Linked DNA regions of Homo sapiens. The protein of the gene in region 1 interacts with the protein of each later gene in a pairwise test. Each region holds a gene or a part of one and is shown on either strand. Other genes may lie near its edges. The genes, in order: ZMYM5 and GTF2IRD1.

Region 1 (7,000 bases):
TCCAAATAACCAATGCACAATGTTATTAATACAAAGGTTAAAAATCCATTCAAAATCAATAGATTTTAAACTAATAGACCAGTCTGTACCAAATACAGTCCCCCCCTTTTTTTTAAGGAAAAAAAAAACTAGCAGGGTGTTATGGCATGCACTTGTAGTCTCAGCTACTTAGGAGGCTGAGGTGGGAGGATAACTTGAGCCCAGAAGTTTGAGGCTGCAGTGAGCTATGATCATGGCACTGCACTCTAGTCTGGGAAACAGAGTGGGATGCTGACACATAAAAAAATTAAAAATAAACAGTATGAAAAAAATTTTTTTGAGACAGTCTCGCTCTGCTGCCCAGGCTGGAGTGCAATGGCATGATCTCAACTCACTGCAACCTAGGCCTCCCAGGTTCAAGTGATTCTTGTGTCTCAGCCTCCCCAGTAGCTAGGACTACAGGCATGCACAACCACACCCAGCTAATTTTTTGCATTTTTAATAGAGATGGGGTTTTGTCATGTTGGCCAGGCTGGTCTCGAACTCCCAGCCTCAAGTGATCCGCCTGCCTTGGCCTCAAAAAGTGCTGGGATTATAGGCATGAGCCACTGCGCCTGGTGATGAAAACTTAATTATACGGTTACAAATCCCACATTGTAACAACCTCGAAAACTACTAATTGTCAAGTTTTGGTGCTGCATCAAAAGAAAACTATCCACATCTAAAAAGACGTGGAAAATAGTCCTCCCTTCTCCAACCACCTATCTATGTGAGGCCAGATTTTCTTCTTATACTTCAAGCAAAACAAAATACTACAACAGACTCAATACAGAAATACATATGAGAAGCCAGATATACCTGTCTTCTATTAAGCCAGATTTTAAAGAGATTTGCAAAAATGTAAGACAATGTTACTTTTCACTAAATTTCTTTGAAAATAGTTATTTTTCATTACAAATGTTATTTATGTTATATAATGGGTAATTATTGTGAAATGAATAGTTTTAATTTTTCTTTTTTTTTTTTTTCTGTGAGATGGAGTCTCACTCTGTCGCCCATGCTGGAGTGCAGTGGCGTGATCTTGGCTCACTGCAACCTCCCGGGTTCAGGTCATTCTCCTGCCTCAGCCTCCCGAGTAGCTGGGACTACAGGCACCTGCCACCATGCCCGGCTAATTTTTTTTTTTTTTTTTTTTTTTTGTATTTTTAGTAGAGACGGGTTTCACTGTGTTAGCCAGAATGGTCTCGATCTCCTGACCTCGTGATCCGCCCACCTCGGCCTCCCAAAGTGCTGGGATTACAGGCGTGAGCCACTGCGCCCGGACTAGTTTTAATTTTTCTTAAGATTTTATCTTATTTTTTGAAACAAAAAAATTTCTGTCGCCCAGGCTGGAGTGCAGTGGCATGATCTCAGCTCACTGCAACCTCAGCATCCTGAGATCAAGCAATTCTCATGCCTCAGCCTCCCAAGTAGCTGTGACTGCAGGAGCATGCCACCATACCCAGCTAATTTTTTTTTGTTGTTTTTTGTATTTTTGTAAGAGACGGGGTTTCACCATGTTGGCCAGGCTGGTCTTGAACTCCTGACCTCAGGTGATCCGACAGCCTTGGCCTCTGAAAATGCTAGGATTACAGGTGAGAGCCACCACACCCAGGTAATTATTATTTTTTGAGACCGGGTCTCACTCTATTACCCAGGATGGAGTGTAGTGTTGTGATCATGGCTCACTGTAGCCTCAAACTCCTCGGCTCAAGTGATCCTCCTGCCTCAGCCTACGAAAAGTGCTGCAATTACAGATGTGAGCTACTACGTCCATCCATTATTATTATTTTTTAAAGACATTAGGTCTTGCTATGTTGCCCAGACTGGACTCAAACTCCTGGGCTCAGGTGACCCTCCCACCTCAGCCTCTTTGTTTTTTTTTGAGACAAGTCTCACTTTGTCGCCCAGGCTGGAGTGCAGTGGAGTGATCTGGGCTCACTGCAACCTCTGCCTCCCAGGTTCAAGTGATTTTCCTGCCTCAGCCTCCTGAGTAACTGGGGCTACAGGTACATGCCACCATGCCTGGCTACTTTTTAATTTTTTTAGTAGAGATGGGGTTTCACCACGTTGGCCAGGGTGGTCTCAAAATCCTGACTTCAAGTGATCCACCTGCCTTGGCCTCCCAAAGTGCTGGGATTACAGGTGTAAGCCACCATGCCCAGCCCCACCTCAGCCTCTTGAATAGCTGGGACTACAGGTGCACGCCACTATACCTGGCTAAAGCTTTAATTTTTAATATATCTAATAATAGAAATAAAAGAAACCTTTGGGGTCTTCATTTTAAGAGTGAATCTGAGACCAAAAAAATTGAGAATAAGTACCCTATGGAAAAAATAAAAAATGTAAACATACGTATTTATTGTAGCTTCAAAACAATGAAAAAGCATGTAAATGATGAAAAAAATACATAGGGGAATGAGTACTTCAGACAAATATTTTGTGGTTACTAAAACTTATATATACATATTTTTAGAGACAGAGTCCCACTCTGTTGCCTAGGCTGGAGTGCAGCGGTAGGATTAAAGCGCAATGTGACCCCAAACTCCAGGTCTCAACTGACCCATCGCAGCTTCCTTAAGTGCTGAGTTTACAGGTGCACATCATGGCGCCTGGCTAATTTTTTTTTACTTTTTATAGAGATGAGGTCTTCGCTACGTTACTGAGGCTGGGTTCAAACTCCTGGCCTCAAGTGATCCTTCTTCCTTGGCCTCACAAAGCGATGACATTACAGGGGTGTGCCACTGCACCCAGCCTATATTTTTATGATGACATAAAATATTAGCATTTAGATTAAGTAAATCAGCAGGATACAAAACAATATAAAAAGTGCTCTAAATTATATTTTTAAAAACCAAAGATTGAAAGCAAACAAACCAAATTCTTCACAGTGGTCACATTATTTCTAGTTACTGGGGTAAGGAGACATATTTTCTGATTTCTATGATTTTTTTCTAAATATTCTATAATAATCACATAGTATTTCGTAACCAGAAGATAAAATTAATTTTAAAAATAAGGAAAAAAGTTGGCCGGGCGCGGTGGCTCAGGCCTGTAATCCCAGCACTTTGGGAGGCTGAGGCGGGTGAATCACTTGAGGTCAGGAGTTTGAGACCAGCCTGGCCAACATAGTGAAACCCCATCTCTACTAAGAATACAAAAAATTAGCTAGGCGTGATGGCACACGCCTGCAATCCCAGCTACTCGGAAGGCTGAGGCCCGGGGATCACTTGAACCCAGGAGGCAGAGGTTGCAGTGAGCCGAGATCGTGCCACTGCATTCCAGCCTGGGTGACAGAGACTCTGTCTCAAAAAAAAAAAAGGGAAAAAGCACTATTTTCCTGAAGGCAACAACATGATTAGGTTCTCAGGTTCTCGTTACTTTTCAGTACTTTCCTAAAATTCAACAGGCTATAAACACTAAAATGGTCAAAAAAACAATACCAACTCTCCCCCAAACCCCTCACAAGTCACATAAAAGCAACAAAAAGGCATTGCTATTTAAAAAATCACTTGTTATGTTTTAATTATATCAGAATAGGACTATCTATATAAGTTCTAAAAATACAGTTCCTTGATTTAAAGGCAAGAAAGTTTTCCAACTTTCAGAATTAAGCGACTAATAAAACGCCGATTTAAAAACTAAAATCAGGCCAGTCGCAGTGGCTCACACCTGTAATCCCAGCACTTGGGGAGGCTGAGGTGGGCAGATCACCTGAGGTTAGGAGTTTGAGACCAGCCTGGCCAACATGGAGAAACCCTGTCTCTACTAAAAAGACAAAATTAGCCAGGCATGGAGACGGGCGTGCTTGTAATCCCAGCTACCTGGGAGGCTGAGGCAGGAGAATCAGTTGAACCCGGGAGGGAGGGGCTGCAGTGAGCCGAGATGACGCCATTGCACTCCAGCCTGGGCAAAAAGAGCAAAACTCTGTCTCAAATAAATAAATAAATAAATAAATAAAAACTAAAATCAGGGATAAAAACAGCCTAAAATTAAAAGCTTAAGCAAAAATTGAAATTTTAAATAATTATAAATAAAATAAAATCCAATCATTATATATTACTTTGTTCTTTCATTACACTGTATCTTTATCCTTTGATTTTTATATAAAGAAAGTAAAGAAGGTAAAGTATTTCAATTAAAATATTTTAGATGTAAATCTTACTGGATAAAATAGATTAAAATCCCAAAATTTCAGAGACCAAGTAGACCGTACAGTTTTATTAAGTAAAATATTCTATCTTAATATGAAAGTCAAAGGCCGGGAGTGGTGGCTCACGCCTGTAATTCCAACACTTTGGGAAGCCAAGACAGGTGGATCACTTGAGGTTAGGAGTTCGAGATCAGCTTGGTCAACATGGTGAAACCCTATCTCTACTAAAAACACAAAAACTAGCCGAGTGTGGTGGCAGGCGCCTGTAATCCCATCTACTCAGGAGGCTCAGGCAGGAAAAAAAAAATCGCTTGAACCTGGGAGGCGGAGGTTGCAATGAGCTGAGATTGCGCCATTGTACTCCAGCCAGCCTGGGTGAGAAGAGCGAAACTCGGTCTCCAAAAACAAACAAACAAACAAGCAAACAAAAAAAGCAAAGCCACAGAATGTGAATAAAATAGATATGAGCTTTACTAAAAAGAACAGCCAAAGGCTTATTTACTTGAGGTAGAAACAGTATCACTTACTGCTTACCAGGACTATGATGAGTTGCAAATTCTCCATTCTGAAATAAGTCTCCTGCCACATTCATTCTACCAGGGTTAAAAGGTCTTACTCCAGTCTTGGTCTGTGGAGTTAAAGATGGGGTGTACGTTTGTATATTAACACCAAAATTACTTGACTGAAGTCCTTTAGCGACATCTCCCAAGTTGGTATTCTATAGTGATGTTTTATATGTAATAATTATGTTCACATCTTGCCCAGCATTCACAGAGCTTATACCTGTTTCTAAGGTTGTAACATTAGTAATAATGTATTTCAGAGTCAATTCTGTAGTGATACCACTATTACCCATTCCTGCATTTACCTTACTTCTTGAAAGACTGGAAGTGGAGAAATCCAAATCGTTGGTTTTGTTTTTAGTTCCAGGAAGTCCCCATTCGATAAAACAGGAAGACTTTTTCTCTGCTCCTCCATTTGTTTCTATGTCCTCTTCATCATCAATAACAATTGTCTCACTTATATTTCCTTTCTGAGATGCCAAATCTCTTGAAGAAGGAGGAATTACAGAATAATTTCCTTGAGGCTTTTCATTTTTTGATGATGCAAATATGAAGTTTCTTTGATCAGCTATTGCTGGAGCAGAAATTGAAGGAGGTTGTATAGATTCAATAAACACAACATCATCATCATCATCATCATCTTCCACTGGTGAGTTCCTAGATCTACTGACTAAAGGACAAGCTGGATGACCAAATGAATCCCCTATGTCCATGAGACTAGTTGCCATGGCCATATTCCCTAATAAAGCAGGAGTCTGTTCAGTCAACTCTAATCCTCCCACTGAACATTTTTCCATGCCAATGAACCTGTAGAGACAGAAAAGAAAAAAAAAAGTTCTAGTATGTTATGGTTTTTGCATTTTACTACAATAAAATAGCACAAGCAAATTTTTCAAATTATTTTTTGTGATACCTGATATCCATTTTGTTTTTCCTCTACTGTTAACTAATGTTTACTTCAGAGCTTGATGGAAATTAATTATATAATTTTGGTAGTCCTTTAAAAAATTCTAATCAATTTATAGTACTCACTTTATTCACTCTTTATAGTGAAAAAATGCCTGCCTTCCTTTGAATTAGAAAATAGTAACAAAATAATTAAATTAAATACCAATAACTTAGGGTCCTAATATAATCACTTATATTCCATATGCTTTTACCTACTACAGCATTTATGATATGGCCCTATTTCCCAAGTGTCTCCTGCCATTGTTTTCTTTCCAAAATCACTTCTTCCAAAATAATTATGTAATTATCTTTATGCATCTTTTTTGTCCTTGTACAGAAAGCATTAAGTCCATTTATGCCAGATATTATGCAATGGGCTTTTTACAGAAAATAAAATTATCAAAACTCCATGATAGTAGCTATAATTTACTCTTATAGTTCAAGAAACTGAGGCCTAGGGAAGCTAACTAAATTGTTCCACATAACACTGGGAGTAAGACTTAAACTCAGGGCTCTAAAAATTCGTTTTCTTTTGAGAGAGGGTCTGGCTCTGTTGTCCAGGCTGGAGTGCAGTTGTGCCATCCTGGCTCACTGCAGCCTTAAATGCCTGGGTTCAAGCAATCCTCCCACCTCAGCCTCCCAAGTAGGTAGGACTACAGGCTCTTGCCATCACAGCCCAGCTAATGTTCCATAAAGTTCTTGGAGAGAGGAGGTCTCACTACATTGCCCAGGCTCATCTCAAACTCCTGGCCTCAAGCAATCCTCCTGCCTTGGCTCCCCAAAATGCTGGGATTACAGGCATGAGCCATGGTACTTGGCCTAGCCCCAAATTCTTAACTTGTTAACACTCAACCTTTTGTATACTTACTATGCACTAAGCTATGATGACAGAAATAATCTAGCAGAGACAATAGTTGAAAAATCTGGAAGTGAATAACTGATGAAACATGGGGGGCTCTTAAGCAGATGAGAGATAAGGACATGTGCACAGGTGGTAATGAAATTGATCACGTATAAGGATCACCTCTATCTCAACTGAAAGAAGGCAAAAGTAAGTATAATTGGAATGTTATGTAGGTATGCAGAAACAATACATGGGATTATACATGCTGGCCTCAATTTTCAATTTTTTTTTTCTTTTAGTAGATGTGAGGTCTCACTATGTTGCCCAGGCTGGTCTCGAACCCCTGAGCTCAAGTGATTCTCCCACCTGGACCTTTCAAAGTGCTGGGATTACAGGAATGAGCCACCACAACAGGCGTGGCCTCAGTTTTTTTTTTCTTTCTTTTTTTTTTTTGTCCTGTCTCACTCTGTCACT
Region 2 (17,186 bases), on another chromosome or scaffold:
GGCTAATTTTTGTGTTTTTAGTAGAGACAGGGTTTCACCATGTTGGCCAGGCTGATCTTGAATGCCTGACCTCAAGTGATCCACCTGCCTCGGCCTCCCAAAGTGTTAGGATTACAGGCATGAGCCACCGTGCCTGGCCTAATTTTTGAAACACAGTCTCACTCTGTCACCCAGGCTGGAGTGCAGTGGCTGAATCTTGGCTCACTGCAGCCTCCACCTCCTGGGTTCCAGTGATTCTCATGCGTCAGCCTTCTGAGTAGCTGGGATTACAGGCATGCACCACCACACCCGGCTAATTTTTGTATTTTTAGTGACCAGGTTTCGCTGTGTTGGCCATGCTGGTCTTGAACTCCTGACCTCAAGCAATCCACCCACCTTCGCCTCCCAAAGTGCTGGGATTACAGGCATGAGCCACTGAGCCCAGCCAAAAGCGTCTTATTAATGCAGAGCTAGCCAAGCAGTAGGACTGGAGTTATTACTCAAATAAATCTCCCCAAGAACTCAGAGGCTAGGGTTTTTATGGATAATTTGGTGGGCAAGGGCCCAGGGAATGGGTACTGCTGATTGGTTGGAGATGAAATCACAGGGGTGTGGCAAACGGTCCTTATGCACTGAGTCGGTCTCTGAGTGGGGGCCACAGGATGGGCTGAGTCATGAGTCACACAGGTCCAGGTGAGTCAGTCGGTTGCCCGAATGCGAAAGTCTGAAAAACATCTCCAAAGACCAATCTCAGTTTCCACAATAGAGATGCTATCTATAGGAGGAAGTGGGGAACTCACAAATCTTGTGATCTCTCGCCACATGACTCCTGAGCAGTCAGATTATAAAAACGATGCGTAGGTTTTAGCAGCGTCCAGGCCCCTCCCATAATCCTAATCTCACGGCCTTTCGTTAGTTTTACAAAGGTGGTTTTGGTCTCTTGTATAAAAAGCAGGTTAGGTTTAAGGAGTAACTATTATCATCCTTGTTTCAAAGTTGAACTATAAACTAAATTCCTCCCCCGGTTAGCTTGGCCTATGCCCCGGAATGAGTGAAGACAGCCAGCGCGTGAGGCTGGAAGCAAGATGGAGTCAGCCACGCTAAACTTCTGTCACTGTCCTAATCTTTGCAAAGGCAGTTTGGCCAGGAGGCTGTGGGGAGACCTTGTGGGTTTTGCCAGGACCTGGGAGATTCTCGATCTATGTTTGGCTGTCCTTCTAAGCCAGAAGCTCCCTGGGGTTGGGGCCTGCCTGGGGTGAGTCCCTCCCTCCCTGCCATGCCCAGTCTAGCCAAGGTCTAGTTCAGGGATCAGGGCACCACGTGGGGGAAGGACTGTGTTCCTTGTGCTGAATTAGGATTTATGGCTTTGGGGCCGGATGGGAGGCGTGCGCACTGATTCAGTAGGAGCGCTGCTGTGGTGTGTGTGTGGTTGGTGGGAGCGGGGCGGGCGGGGGGCGGGGGGGCTGGTTGGGGGGACAGGGGTAAAAGCCTATCAGAGGGAGGTCCCATCAGACAAGATGGGACCAAGAGTCCAGTTGGCTCTGCTGCGACTTTCGGCCTGTCACTGCCTTCCTGCACATCTCAGGGGTGGGAGGGGGACAAAGGCTGTAAGAGTAAGAGGTACCTGGCCCAAGCCTTAGGACTAGAACCCGGGCCAGGCGGGAGTGACCAGCCGGGACACTCAGGGCCTCCGCGCGTTCCAGCTGGGTGACCTTGACCCTCCAACTTCAGCCCCCTGCGCCCGGCTGCTCTCCCAGTGGTGGTGGGGAGCGGTGGGGGTAGACGGGGGCGCGCCCAGGCTTTTCTAATCCGGCGCTGGTGGGGGAGAACCGAGGGCGCCACCGCCCCTCCCCGCAGGTCCGGGGCCGAGGGGTGCGGCGCGCTCTCCCCACCGCGGTGCCCAGGTCCCCGGGACGCAGGGGCGCTGGGTAGCAAGGGGGGTGCGCAGGGGCGCGGGGCGCGGGGCGGGCTAATCCCGTATGTAAATGGCAGCCAATGGAGGGTGGTGTTGCGCGGGGCTGGGATTAGGGCCGGGGCGAATGGCTGGCAATCTTACTGGGATTACAGAACAAAGAGCCTCCCCGCGCTCCCGCTCTCCGCTCCTCTCCCCGCGCCGCCCCGCCCTCCGCCGCAGCCCGCGCCGGGGGTGGGGGCCGCCGAGCGCCAGCCCCCCGGCCGGCCGATTCCCCCCCCGCGCCCCCTCCCCGCGCCTCCCTCCCCGCCCTCGCCGCGCCGCCGTCCTCGCCTCCCTCTGCCTCTCCTTCCCCCATTCTCCCGGATTAATTAAGGAGGCAGCGGCAGGAGGCTGAGTCCTGGCCGCGGGCCGGGGCCGGGGCGCCGCTGGCAGGAGCGCTTGGGGATCCTCCAAGGTAGGAGAAACTTTTGCGGGGGGCGGGCACCGAGGCCCTTCTCCCCTTCTCCCCCACCCCCGCCCCCGATCCCCTCCGCCTCCGGGGGGGGGGGTCCCCGCCCCTCCCCCTCTCAAGGTGTTACAGGAGCTGGGGCCGGCTTTTGGGTGCCCGGGGAGGCACGTGACTGGGATTATAATTCGGGCCCGGGGGGAGGGGAGGGACGGCCGCCCCCCACCTGCCCGGGAGGGGCCGGGAGCTGGGAGCTGTCACCCCCTCCCTCCTTGCCACCGGCTCTTCTGGAGGTGGGGGGCGTCCCGGGCCGGCGCCCGCAGGCTGCTGCAGTTGGCGAATGAGGTCAGTCGCGCTGCCCGCGGTGGCGGGCGCCGGGGTGGGAGCAGAGGGGGCTGGGAAGGCCGCGGTCCCCGCCTTTCCCCCCTCCACCTTCTCCCGGTCTGGGCCAGCCCCTGGCCCGCGCCCCCAACTCCCAGGCGGAGTCCAGTCCAGCCAGGATTGCCCCAGCAGGGTGGTTCCTGTAGTGGACCCCCCGCCCCGGCCCCGGGGAGGGGGCTGGCCTGTGTGGTGGTGGCCGCTGAATCCCGGGTGGAGGGGACTCAGAAGGTGGCAGTGGGGGGACCACAAAGGGTTCAGAGGAGTAAGTTGGGGATACTCGGTCTGTGGGTGGTCTCTGAGTTCCTGCAGATGGGTGGAGAGGACAGAGGAGGGGCCACAGGGTGCTGAACACCCACCCGCCCCATCCTAAGTACCCTGGGCATGATGGGCTTGACACCTCTCCTGGGCTCCTCACCCCTGGCCAGCAGCCAGGGAGTGAGACCCTGCCTCGCCTGGCGTGGGCCCAGGGAAGGGGGCCGCTGTGCCGCTGAGAGTTCGTTCCACCCTCCTGGCAGTGCTGGAGGGGGCTGGAGCTCTGGCGTCTGGCCTAGTGACCCTACCTCCCAGGACCAAGGTCCTGCGGTGGGAGTCTCCTGTGTCCCCATCCCAGCTGAAGCGAGGGTGCTGGGACATAGGGGTCTCGCTGCAGGGCCTGTGAGGGGAGCACTGACTCTTGGATGGAGAATGTGCCAAGGGGTACCCCGGGATGGCCCTGGGCCTGGCGGGTGGGAGTGGAGGGCAGGCCCCCGCAGTTTTTGGAGAAGTGGGCATTTGCTGGGGTTTCTCTTAGAAGAGGAGAGGGGTGTCTAGAAGCCACCCTGGCGCGCCGCTGCCATGGTCGGCCTCTGTGTGTCTGGCTGCCCCGTGGCCAGGACTGTTGACTCCTTGGCACTGGCCCGGGGCCTTGGGACTTGGAAGGTGCCCCAAGCAGCTCATTTATTTCAGCAGTGTCATTCCAGAGGGGAAGGGCACCAGCATCGATTATTTATTCTAAGCAGGAGGAGGTGGCTGGAGGCTGGTGGCTGCTGGCAGGGAGGGGCTAGGTATAAGGTAGTTAGGTGGCCGTCATGAACCGCCCTATTTGGGGCCCAGGAGGGTGTGAGATAGACTCTGACCTCTTCTGAGCAGGCATCTGCGGACCAAGGGACAGGCTTGGCCCCAAGGTGACAGGGTATCGGAACCCCCATCCTGCCTCTGGGGTGTGGGAGGCTCAAGTCCACACCTCGTTCTTCCACAGCCTGTTCTGAGGGTGACCTAGAAATTGGCAGTTCTAACTCAGAGGGTCCCACAGGACCCCACAGAGGAAACTAGGAAGGAAGGGTTGAAACTCCGCAGCCACTCAGAGCCTGCACTCTTAAAATGTTCGAGAACTTAAGGCCGATGGTTGTAAAACTGGGTCTTGAAGACAGCTTTGTAGGGGGCACGCTAAACCTACTTAAAAGGACTGTTCTCTCGATGTTGGGAGAAGGGTCATTTATTTGCAGTATGCTAATCACAAATAATTTTTATCTGTTCATTGAAGGCAGCCTCCCAGGAGCCCGGCTAGCCTTCTGATGAGGTGGTAGTCGTCAGCACTTGGTGTTTGGCAATAGTCTGAGTGGCAGCTGTAATCTAGGGTCTTGGAGGTAGCTGTTTTTGCAGCCTGCTTGACTCCAGAGGCCAGGCCATCCACGGTTTGGTGACAGCTTGGTTGTTGGACCTGGGGTCTTGTGGATGGTGGGTGATGGCTTGGGACATTCACGTCCTAAGCATGACCTTGGAACCATAGACTGCAGCTCCCAGATGATTCTCATTCAGGGTCTAGTCTCTGACCACTCACTGCTTCCTCAGCCGACTCATAAATCCTGTAGTCTGGCCGGGCGCAGTGGCTCACGCCTGTAATCCCAGCACTTTGGGAGGCCGAGGTGGGTGGATCACGAGGTCAGGAGTTCAAGACCAGCCTGGCCAACATGGTGAAACCCCATCTCTACTAAAAATACAAAAAATTAGCCAGGCGTGGTGGCAGGCATCTGTAATCCCAGCTGCTCGGGAGGCTGAGGCAGGAGAATCGCTTGAACCCGGGAGGTGGAGGTTGCAGTGAGCCAAGACCGCACCACTGTACTCCAGCCTGGGCAACAGAGCAAGACTCCATCTAAAAAAAAAAAAAGAAAAAATTCTGTAGTCTTGCCGTTTTCCTGAATGGCCTGGCTTCCTCCTACCCCTGGCCTCTGCACACACAGTTCCTCTTCTCTCGAAGGTTCTTCTTGGCCTTTCCCCTGAGGAGGCTGGGGGGCTTCCTTTATTAGCCCTGCCTGGCTAGGGTAGGGGGTCAGGATTATAGAATTTGCCTCTTTTCCTCTCCTTCAGGACTTGGCTTGGCTGTGGTATCTTTGGGCTGAAGACTTCCTCGTCCTCAGGGCTGGCCATGGTTCCACCTTTATATCCCCATGATGTCCTCTCTTTTTTTTCTTTTTTTCTTTTTTTGAGACAGTCTTGCTCTGTGCCCAGGCTGGGGTGCAGTAGTGTGATCACAGCTCACTGCAGCCTCGAACTCCTGGACTCAAGCCACCCTCCCACCCCAGCCTCACAAGTAGCTGGGACCGCAGACAAGGGCCACTACACCTGGTTAATTTTTTATTGTTTGTAGAGATGGGGTCTTGCTATGTTGCCCAGGCTGGTTTCGAACTCCTGGGCATGAGGAGTCCTCCCACCTTGGCCTCTCAAAGTGCTGGGATGACAGGAGTGAACCACCGCGCCTAGCCAACATCCTTTCCTTCCTTTGTCCCAACATTGATCTTACTCAGATGTTTACATCTCTCTCCCCAATTGCACTAGGGACAGGAAGGGATGGAGGCTTGCTCCTCAAATACTTGTTAAATGGCTACATGTTTGAATGAATGAATGAATGAAATCCTGCTCTTGAGCCTTGACCTAAATGGCTAAGCAGACTCTCTCCTATTTTTCTTAAATGCTCATCTCTGGGGCAAGTTCCCCACCCTGGTAGGAGTCCCAGGGTCTCTCCCTGAACTTCCTGGGGCCCCCTCTCTCCCCACTACCCCAGCCTGTGTCTTCTCCCAACCTTAACCCTGGGGGCTTTGCTCCCCAATGTCATCCTCTCTGTATCTCTCAGTTCTCTGACTCTCGCCGTTTGTAAGTATCTCTCTCTCAGATGCGTGGCAGCCAGGGTCACAGCCAGGTTCTTTGGGACAAGCCAGGGGTGTATGCCCAGCTCCATGGGGCCTGCAGAGGCTTCAGGGGACACCCATGGAAGAAGACCTGCAGGGCCAATTTATAAACAGAGGAGCAGAGCAGGACCCAGGGCTTGGAATCCATGCTGAGTTACGTTTTTGTTTTTTTTTTTTTTTTTTTGAGAGGGAGTCTCACTTTGTCGCCCAGGCTGGCATGCAGTGGCGCCATCTCGGCTCACTGCAACCTCTGCCTCCTGGGTTCAAGCGATTCTCCTGCCTCAAGTAGCCGGGATTACAGGCATGCTCTACCACGCCCGGCTAATTTTTGTATTTTTAGTAGAGATGGGGTTTCATCATGTTGGCCAGTCTGGTCTAGAACTCCTGACCTCAAGTGATCTGCCCGCCTCTGCCTCCCAAAGTGCTGGGATTGCAGGCATGAGACACTGCGCCCGGTCCTGAGTTCAGTTTTGATTGGGGGGCTTCCGGGATAATATGGGGCCGCTAGGACAGGGACCCTTAGTGTGACTGGAAGGGAATTTCCTGAAGGAATTCATAGCAGAGGTGGAGTGGTGGGAAGGATGGTTTCTGGGGGAGAAGGAGATGCGTGAACCTGGCCAGAAGACAGTGTGTTGTGACAGATGATTGCTGGTGAGGGGGTAACAGTCTCCAAGGTGTAGATGTTGGGGGCTCCAGATACGGCAGGAGGGGCCTGGCCTCTCGGAATCCCCTCAGCCCCATCTCATAGAAACATGTGCTTTCTACCCAGGCTCCATACTCCGGAAGGGAGGCAGGACCCTGTCACTTTCTTGGCCTACTTTGGAAGTTCTCAGTCAGGTATCTCCAGGTGTGGCAGAGGGGCTTTGGCCTGTAGGGGGTGTGGTAATGTGGGTTTTGGAGGCAGAAAGCTTTTCAGGAAAGCCCCCTGGTCCATCACCCCCCTTTCTTTTTTTTTTTTTTGAGATGGAGTCTTGCTTTGTTGCCCACGCTGGAGTGCAGTGGCACGATCCCAACTCACTGCAACTTCCACCTCCCGGGTTCAAGTGATTCTCGTGCCTCAGCCTCCCGAGTAGCTGGGATTACAGATGTACACCACCACACCTGGCTAATTTTTGTATTTTTAGTAGAGACGGGGTTTCACCATGTTCGCCAGGCTGGTCTTGAATGAACCCCTGACCTCAAGTGATTGGCCCTCCTTGGCCTCCCAAAGTGCTGGGATTACAGGTGTGAGCCCCCAGGCCCGGCCTCATCATCACTTCTTCACCCACCCTATTTTGGTAGCTCTCTCTCCACTCGTCCTGTGGAACTGATCCATTCTCGGTCCCATTCCCTTCTCTCTGGGCCAATCTGCACCTAGGTTTGTGGCTTCATGAGTATGGAGGGTCGTGCAGAAAGGGGCCAGGTCTGTAGGAACCTGGGTTCATGCCCTGGAAATTTGCCCATTTAAGATAAGTTAGGGCCGGGTGCGGTGGCTCATGCCTGTAATCCCCAGCACTTTGCACTTCGGGAGACCGAGGCGGGCGGATCACCTGAGGTCAGGAGTTTGACTAGCCTGGCCAACACGGTGAAACCCCATCTCTACTAAAAATACAAAAATTAGCCAGGCGTAGTGGCGGGCGCCTGTAATCCCAACTGCTCGGGAGGCTGAGGCAAGAGAATTGCTTGAACCTAAGAGGTGAAGGTTGCCGTGAGCTGAGATCGTACCATTGCACTCCAGCCTGGGCGACAAGAGTGAAACTCTGTCTCAAAAAAAAAAAGATAAGATAGGTGTCCTGAATAAGATAGGTGAAATGGGTGAGGATGTACTTTATCTTACACGGTCTTAGGGAGTGTCTCAGGCGGTGAACAGAACTCTCTCGCCCCTGAGCTGGGGCCTGGCTGACCCAGAGCTATTTGTGTGCCCACCTGTCACCCTCTTTCAGGACCACCTGCTTCAGGTTGCCAGATTTAGCAAATAAAAATAAGGATGCCCAGCTAAAATTGGATTTCAGACAAGCAAGGACTAATGCAATATTTGGGATGAACTTCTAGCTAAAAGTTACCTGTTGTTGATCTGTAGTTCAGACTGAACTGGAGGTCTTGCATTTTATCTGCCAACCCTACAACTGCTGCCTCTGGGGCGGTGAGATGGATGGGGTTTGGGGAGGGGCCAGAGGTGTGTGTGGCTGACCCTGGAGTTGGGATCAGGGCTCAGTGGAGGCCCCGGGGATGATCTGGAGCGAGTTTGAATCGAGTGGAGCTGATTCACTGAATCTTGGCTTTTTTTTTTTTAATTTGTATTGAAATGAGGTCTCACTCTGTCACCCAGGCTGGAGTGCAGTGGCACAATCTCGGCTCACTGCAGCTTCTCCCTCCCCGGCTCAAGCGATCCTTCTGGCTCAGTCTCCCAAGTAGGTGGGACCACAGGCACACGCCACCGTGCCCGGCTAATTTTTTGTATTTTTGGTGGAGATGGGGTTTCGCCATGTTGCCCAGTTCCTGAGTTCAAGTGATCTCAAAGTGCTGGAATTACAGAAGTGAGCCACTGTACCCAGCCAGCAGGGTCCTTTTTCATTTTTATTTTATTCTATTTTTTGAGACAGTGTCTCACTCTGTTTCCCAGGCTGGAGTGCAGTGGCGTGATCCTACCTCACTGCAACCTCCAACTCCTGGGCTCAATGTGATCCTCCCACCTCAGCCTCTGCACCTAGCTAATTAAAAAAAAATTTTTTTTTTTTAGAGATGGGGTCTTGCGATGTTGCCCAGGCTGGTCTCAAGCTCCTGGCCTCAAGCGATCCTCCCACCTCAGCTTCCCAAAGTGCTGGGATTACAGGCAGTATCCTTCTAATGTCCTTGGTCGGGCCTCCTCCAGCCTGTGGCTCGAGGGTCTAGATCTCCTACTGGCCTGGGTGGCATGGAGGGTGTAGTCTAGGTGGCCTGAGGGGTGCCCAGGGATCCCCAGTTTGGGAAGTCCTTGTCTTCAGGGATTTCTGGCCAATGTGGTCCGTATATTTAGAGATGCTGGGAGGAGGGGGTGGGAAATTGCTGGAAACACCCTATTATACACCAAGTAAGATTTTCATGTAGGATTGGCAAGGCCTGAGTGCTGGGAAAGTGTCTGCAATGGCTACCTTTCAAAGCTGGGAGACCCCGCCACGGGGGCGGTTGTGGACTTGAGGGGCTGACCCCACAGCACGGAGGCTGCTGGGAATTCCTGCACCTTTGCCATGCTGCCACCTGAGGCAGGTTCCCAGCACCTGAGCTGCAGCCTCTGGAGTGGGGGAAATGGGGGGAAAGTAAGGGGCCGGGGTCATGGGGTCCACGTCCACCTTCCGCCCGCCTGGGCAGTTTTCTTGGATGTAAAAGGGAGATGGCTCTCCCCAACCTGCCTGGGTCCCAGTGTGGTGCTGTAGTCCAAGGGACTTGGTGTGACCCCGTGGGGATGCCACAGCATGGGTGTGTGGGACCCCCGGGGGCAGGTCTGTGGTGGAGACAGGGTGGGAGGGCCTGGCTTGAGGGCTTGCGGTCCTGGGCACTTGAGGATGCAGAAGAGGCTGCATGGTTGGGGAGGGTAGGTAAGCAGGGGGCAGCTTAGCCCTTTCCCCTCCTGTTCCCTGTGACAGAGGGGAGACCCTCCAGGCTGTTTGTGTCTTAGATGGTTGGCCGAGGGTAGGCCTCTTTGCTGGCTGGGGTCTAGCAGGGTCTCAAGGTGCATTTTCTGGCTACTGGCAGAACCACCATCAAAGCAAGTCCGTATCTTTTCGTCTATCCATCTGTTGTTACGCCAGCCAGTGAGGACCTTGCAGAGGCGTCAGGCCTGAGGGAGTCTCATTAGGTCCTGGTCCCCAGCCCCCGGCTGGCACATGAGAAGGGCCCACTTTATATTTTATTTTATTTATTTATTTAAGATGGAGTCTCACTCTGTCACCCAGGCTGGAGTGCAGTGGCGCGATCTCGGCTCGCTGCAACCTCTGCCTCCCGGGTTCAAGCAATTCTCTTGCCTCAGCCTCCTGAGTAGCTGGGATTATGGGTGCATGCCACCTCGCCCAGCCAATTTTTGTATTTTTAGTAGAGATGGGGTTTTGCCATCTTAGCCAGGCTGGTTTTGAACTCCTGATCTCAAGTGATCTGTCCACCTTGACTTCCCGGAGTGCTGGGATTACAGGCGTGAGCCACTGTGTCCGGCCCCACTTTATATTTTATTAAAAATATCGTTGAGGAGTGAAGGCTATGCTATACCAGGAACTTGCCTGGCTCACACCCTTATGTCGTCCAACCCCCGTCAAGACATAGAACAGCGCTTTGGGAGGCTGAGGCGGGAGGATGGCTTGAGGCCAGGAGTTTGAGACTAGCCTAGACAACATAGTGAAACCTCCATCTCTACAAGAAGTACAAAAATTAGCCAGGCGAGGTGGCTCATGCCTGTAGCCCCAGCTACTCAGGAGGCTGCGGCGGGAGGATCACTTGAGGCCAAGAATTTGAGACCAGCCTGGGCAACATAGCAAGACCCCGTCTCTTAAAAAAAAAATTAGCCGGGTGTGGTGATGTGTGCCTGTAGCCCCAGCTACTTGGGAGGCTAAGGCAGGAGGATTGCTTGACCCCAGGAGTTAGAACAATCCTGTAACCCCTAAAAGTTTTTGAAGCCCGTTTGTTCATCCTTGTCTCTTGTCCTGACCCCAGCAACCACTGATCTGTCTTCTGTATATGGTTTTCCATTTGTACAATGTCACATAAATGGAATCCTACAGTCCACAGCCTCTGAATCTGGCTTCACACAGCATAATGCATTTACGGCATTGCTGGGTACACGGGTAGCTGGTCCCTTCTGGTCCCTGAGTAGTGTTCCATGGTGTGGATATGCCACATACCTCTAGCCACTCTCCTCTCTAGGGAAATCTAGCAAACCGGCTTGGCCGGCCCTGCATCAGCTCGGGACCCCCCAGAAGAAGGTGGTTCCTCTTTCTCATTTTCACAAAGGCACCATCTGGCTGGCGGGGGGCCTGTGGCCTGCACCCCATCACTACCCACCCCCCACATCAAGAGCTGACCCCAAGCCGGGGGAGCTGCTCATCTCCGCCCTCAGAGCTGGAATTTCATCTTCTGTTTCTGGTGACTCATACTGTGAGCCCCGCGATGAAATTACACCTGCCTGCCGCTGCCCTCCGGGCCTCTGGCCCCATGCGATCCTCCCGCCGCCATCCAGGTGGGCTCTGGAGTAATTGAGGCTATGGGGCCAGGACAGCTGGAGGTTGAGGGCGGTGCCAGGGAGGGGAGCTGTCTGTGCCCTGGGGTGTCTTGCCCATCATCTTATGTATCCCCACCCTGTGGGAGTCTGGGGTTCCTGGTGGTGCGTCTCTGGTCTTCACTCCTGCAGCTGTTTTGCTTGGGGTAGAAGTTTCATGTTTGCCTGAAATAAGAGCAGGACTTCTGAGGGTAGGGAAGGAAGGTGGTGAAGCCACTGTTGCAGGCAGGAGCAGGAGTTAGGATCAAACGGAACAGGGCTGGCCGAGTGATGTCACATCTCTGGGCTTTGGTTTGTTCATCTGTTCTTATTATTATTTTGAGACAGGGTCTCGTTCTGTCACCCAGGCTGGAGTGCAGTGGTGCAATCATAGCTTGCTGCAGTCTTGAACTCCTAGGCTCAAGTGATTCTCCCACTTCAGCCTCCTAAGTAGCTGGGCTTGGAGGCACTTGCCACTACACCCAGCTAATTTTTTTATTTTGTAGAGATGGGGGTCTCGCCATGTCGCCCAGGCTGGTCTTGAACTCCTGTGTTCAAGTGATCCCACAACCTCAGCTTCCCAAGTGCTGGGATTAGAGGGGTGAGCCACTGCGTCCTGCCTGTTCATCTTTAAGTGGGAGAACAGAACACTAGGTTTGCAGGGCTGTGAGACTCAGCTGAGGGTAATGTGAGTGTGTGGATTACCACAGAGCCCTGGAGGGCCCCAGGGGCCACCAAGGAGCGGGTGGTGGGGACATGTGAGGCTCAAGCCTCCTGTGCCCCTTTGGGCCAGAGTAGGACCACTGTTGTTTTTTGTTTTTTTTTTTTTGAGACAGAGTCTCACTCTGTCGCCCAGGCTGGAGTGCAGTGGCGTGATCACGGCTCACTACAACCTCCGCCTCCCGGGTTCAGTTGATTCTCCTGCCTCAGCTTCTCGAGTAGCTGGGATCACAGGTGCGTGCCACCACACCCGACTAATTTTTGTATTTTTAGTAGAGGCGGAGTTTCACCATGTTGTCCAGGCTGGTTTCGAACTCCTGACCTCAAATGATCCACCCATCTTGGCCTCCCAGAGTGCTGGAATTACAGGTGTGAGCCACCGCGCCCTGCCCTAGGACCACTTTTACCAGAGTTACCTGTTAGAGCTCTAAATACAGTTCTGGTTGCTAAATGTTTGGAATCCACTGCTGCCTGAGGTCAGCCCTGTGTGAACAGTGGCTATTCTGGTGAATGTTTTTGTGGCTAGAGCCTAGATTATGGTGGTTTACGGACTCCAGCCTGTCACTTGCCTGAGGCTGAGCCTCAGTTTGACCCTCTAGAAAATGGAACCACAGCAAGTACCTCCACAGGTTTGCCAGGTGGGCATGAATGAAGCAGGGGAGCCCAGCAAGAGTTTGTCAGTTTCCCATTGGCAAATCCATGAGTTTCCCAGGGCTCTCGGCTTCCTAAGGAGATGGAGCTTCCTGGGTGATCACATGTCTTGCGTGGGTGTCTTGAGAGATTTGGGGGGTTTTTACTTTGTTGTTTTTGTTGTTGTTATTTGTTTGTTTTTGAAACAGAGTCTCCTTCTGTCACCCAGGCTGGAGTGTAGTGGTGTGATCACGGCTCATGGCAGCCCCCCTCCTCCTGGGTTCAGGCACTTCTCCCGCCTCAGCCTCCCAAATAGCTGGGATTACAGGCACCTGCCACCACACCCGGCTAATTTTTGTGTTTTTAGTAGAGACGGGGTTTCGCCATGTTGGCCAGGCTGGTCTCGAACCCCTGACCTCGAGTGATCCACCTGCCTCAGCCTCCCAAAGTGCTGGGATTACAGACATGAGCACAAGCCACCGCGCCCAGCTGGTTTTTACTTTGTTATTTAATTTGTTATTTGTGAAATCGTTGTGGCCCCTCTCTAATGAAGGTTGCCCCAAGTACCTTTCCCCTGTACCCCACCCTTGCCTCCCACCCCTACCGGGTTCCCCAAAGTCCTCAAAGGCTGGACCCTGGGGCCAGCACTCGGTGGGTAGCCTGGAAAGAGGTTAGCCCTGTGCAGGAAGGAAGGCCCTTGGGTGCTCCTGGGTGGCTCCTTGCAGCAGACAAGACCCACCGCCCACCCACCTGGCTCCAGGGTGGTCCTGGCAGCTCCAAGGGGTCTTGTGACTCTCTCAGTCTGATGTTTCTCTCATGTTTATCCAGGAGCTGGTTTTTCAGGCATGGCCGCTTCTTGCAGTGAGGCCAGGTGGGGAGAGGCAGGGCTTTGGGGAAGGAGGTGGTTACCTCTGCTCCCAGGGCACACCCTGGCTGCCAGCTGTGGGTGCAGCCCTCTGGGCAGGTGGGCAAACCACATCCTCCCTCTTTGATCCTGGTCCACCTCCCCACCTGCCCCGGGCCACCAGCTCCCTGAGATATTCTCTTCTCAGCATATCCAAAGGAGAGATGCTCTTGGTGGCCCTGGGTCAGAGGCCAGGGCTCCCTCACTTCACAGCAGGGTGCAGTGGAACCATCAGGGTCTTTGAAGCCAGACACACCTAGGTTCAAATCCCAGCCTGACTGCTGAGCTGCTGTGTGACCACAGGCAAGTGACTGTACCTCTCTGAGCCTCATCTGAAAAAACAAGGATAGTTTTCTTATATAGTATTGCCAGGTTCTTGGGAAAATCAGTGTATTCAGTTGCGGGGAGCTAGCTGCCATCTCAGTGAAGAACACTTTGTCAGCTTGTCACGTGATGACCCCAGAAGCTGGCCCTGTGGGAGCCCCACTCCCCCAGACAGTGAACCTTGGACCCCATCATTCCAAGATCTGTTCTTATTTTCTGCCTGTCTGGGACACACCCCCTCTGTCCGTGGGGTGTGGGGTGTGGGGTGTGGCATGCCTCAATTTATTTATTTTTTTTGAGACAGAGTCTTCCTCTGTTGCCCAGGCTGGAGTGCAGTGGCAGGATCTCGGCTCACTGCAACCTCTACCTCCTGGGTTCAAGTGAGTCTCCTGCCTCAGCCTCCCGAGTAGCTGGGATCACGGGCGCCCGCCACCATGCCTGGCTAATTTTTTGTATTTTTAGTAGAGACAGGGTTTCACCATGTTGCCCAGGCTGGTCTTGAACTCCTGGCCTCAAGTGATCCACCCGCCTTGGCCTCCCAATGTGTTGGGATTATAGGCATGAGCCACTGCACCCGGACAGCATGCCTCGGTTTCTGCTTCTGCAAACTGGGAAAACCTCAAAGGTAGAACTGGTTGGTCCCCTTGGCCTGCCGACCCCTTAGCCCCTCAAGGTCACAGTCAGCCATCCCGCTTGTTAGAGGCCAGGCCCTGTTCTGGGGCGGGGGCTACCTGTGGCTGCTTAGGGGACGGGAGACAATGCCACTCCCAGGTGTGTTTGATGGCAGCCTGCAGAAGTGGCTTTCTGCATGGCCCTGGAGGACGGTGATTTGGACAGAAGCGTAGGGCCAGAGACAGGACGTGACGGTGGGGCTGCTGCATTGGCTCCAGGTAAAGATCTGTATCTGATGGCCTCACTCCCAGGCAGCTCAGGGGTTCCCGTGGCTCCTGGAAAAGCTACAGACTAGGCATGGCCAGGCCCTGCCTGTGTCTCTCTGTGCCAGCCACGATGAGCCTCATCGTTTCTAAAACGTACTGTGCTCCGTCTCGCTTCCTGGAACGCTGCTGCCTCTCCCCTAGAGCGTGCGTAATGCTCCCCGGCTGTGTCCCTGGGCTGATTTCTCGTTGCAGGTCTCAGCTGGGTTGTCACTCCTCTCTGCAAAGCTTCCCTGACCTCATCTCCCTCTCCAGGTCACGTTAGGTGCCTCTTGTCTGTGTCCCCAGCCACAGCCCGCATCACAAACAAGACTATAATTGCCCTCGTGCTTGTCTGTCACCTTCACAGACAGAGTGTGACTTCCAGTGGGTCACGGCCCCATCATCATGTTGTCCTCCGCATCCCTGACCTTAGCACCCTGCCTGTTGCGGAGTGGGCATCCTGTGCAACCTTGTCAAGTGAATTAGAAGCAAGCTCGGGGTGGGGGCCCATGAAGGGTGGGGGCCTCCTCCACCCTTTTTCTTTCTTTTTTTTTTTTTTTGGAGACAGGGTCTCGCTCCATTGCCCAGGCTGGAGTGCAGTGGCATGATCTCGGCTCACTGCAACCTCCGCCTCATGGGTTAAAGCAATTCTGCCTTAGCCCTCCCCAGTAGCTGGGACCACATGCACCTGCCAACACACCCGGCTAGTTTTTGTATTTTTAGTAGAGATGGGGTTTCATCATGTTGGCCAGGCTGGTCTCAAACTCCTGACCTCAAGTGATCCACCCGCCTCAGCCTCCCAAAATGCTGGGATTACAGGGGTGAGCCCCCATGCCCGGCCCCTCTCCATCCTTCAATCCCAGCTCTCGTTGGCGCTCCTCTACCCATCCCAGGAGCTGCTTCTGCCGGCCTGGCTGTGGCGTTCAGAGGCATCTGGAGGGCAGTGGCGATGGCAGTGGGGGCAGCTTGTCTCTCTGAGCCGAGTACAGCCCAATTTGGAGCGTTTCCCTCCAGGAAAGGCAGCTGATGTGTGCAGACAGCACAAGTGTGGAGTGCCAGAACAGTTAATCCTCTGGGCTATTTATTTATTTATTTATTTTGTTTTGTTGTTGAGATAGAGTCTTGCTCTGTCGCCCAGGCTGGAGTGCAGTGGCGTGATCTTGGCTCACTGCAACCTCCACCTCCCAGGTTCAAGCGATTTGCCTGCCTCAGCTTCCCGAGTAGCTGGGATTACAGGCATGCACTACCACACCTAGCTAATTTTTGTATTTTATTTTGTATTTAATTTTTTATTTTTATTTTTTGAGTCAGAATCTCGCTCTGTCACCCAGGCTGGAGTGCAGTGGTTTGATCTCGACTCACTGCAACCTCTGACTCCTGGTTTCAAGCGATTCTCCTGCCTCAGTCTCCTGAGTAGCTGGGATTACAGGCGCCCGCCACTGCTCCCGGCTAATTTTTGTATTTTTAGTAGAGACGGGGTTTCACCATGTTGGACCAGACTGGTCTTGAACTCCTGTCCTCAGGTGATCCGCCTCTGGGCTATTTAGACACACATGCTTGTGTGCATGCATGGGTGTGTATATGCACATGTATGTGACATTCCTGAGGCCACCGGCGGTGACGAGGCCTGATTACTTGACGTTCTGCTGAATCCTGACTACTAGCCTGGAGCTTTACTCCCCAGTGTACACAGCTCCCCGAGTCCTGGTTAGTGGTAAAGAGGGGACTGTCCCCTGTCATTTAGGGCTGCATTTGGCTACAGGTAATTAAACACCCAACTGTAAATATAGCAAATATCTAAATATTAAGCCAGGTCAGGTGCAGCAGCTCAGGCATGTAATTTTAGCACTTCGGAAGGCCGAGATGGGCAGATTGCTTGAGCTTAGGAGTTTGAGACCGGCCTGGGCAACGTAGTGAGACCCTGTTCTCTACAAAACATAAAAATAATTTAAAAAAAAAAAAAAAACCCAGCCAGGCCGCAGTGGCTCACTCCTGTAATCCCAGCACTTTGGGAGGCTGAGACGCGCAGATCACAAGGTCAGGAGTTCAAGACCAGCCTGGCCAACATGGTGAAACCCCATCTCTACTAAAAATACAAAAAATTAGCCGGGCGTGGTGGCACGTGCCTGTAATCCCAGCTACTTGGGAGGCTGAGACAGGAGAATCACTTGAACCTCGGAGGCAGAGGTTGCAGTGAGCCAAGACTGTGCTACTGCACTCCAGCCTGGCGACAGAGCAGCGAGACTCCATCTCCAAAAAAAAAAAAAACTGTGTGTGTGTGTGTGTGTGTGTGTGTGTGTGTGTGTGTGTGTGTGTAGCCTGGCAGACTTTAGATATTAAACCTGACAGTTAAACAAAAAGGAGTTTATTTATTCCTCATAAGAAAATATGGAAGGGCCGGGCGCGGTGGCTCACGCCTGTAATCCCAGCACTTTGGGAGGCCAAGGCAGGCAGATCATGAGGTCAGGAGAGCGAGACCATCCTGGCTAACATGGTGAAACCCCGTCTCTACTAAAAATACAAAAAAATTAGCCGGGCGTGATGGTGGGCGCCTGTAGTCCCAGCTACTCGGGAGGCTGAGGCAGGAGAATGACGTGAACCCGGGAG

Evidence for each region.
Region 2: the proteins of ZMYM5 (region 1) and GTF2IRD1 interact in a two-hybrid assay, tested with the Homo sapiens proteins (one study listed by BioGRID and IntAct).

Annotation. Positions count from the first base shown.
Region 1 is NC_000013.11:19,846,650-19,853,649, forward strand, and holds part of ZMYM5 (zinc finger MYM-type protein 5), read right to left. Parts: intron 5,542-7,000; coding exon of another isoform or gene 5,532-5,541; coding exon 5,040-5,531; intron 4,800-5,039; coding exon 4,706-4,799; intron 1-4,705. UniProt on the Homo sapiens protein: Functions as a transcriptional regulator.
Region 2 is NC_000007.14:74,451,829-74,469,014, forward strand, and holds the start of GTF2IRD1 (general transcription factor II-I repeat domain-containing protein 1), read left to right. Parts: upstream 1-2,077; 5' UTR 2,078-2,348; intron 2,349-2,550; exon of another isoform or gene 2,551-2,684; intron 2,685-2,693; exon of another isoform or gene 2,694-2,982; intron 2,983-17,186. UniProt on the Homo sapiens protein: May be a transcription regulator involved in cell-cycle progression and skeletal muscle differentiation. May repress GTF2I transcriptional functions, by preventing its nuclear residency, or by inhibiting its transcriptional activation.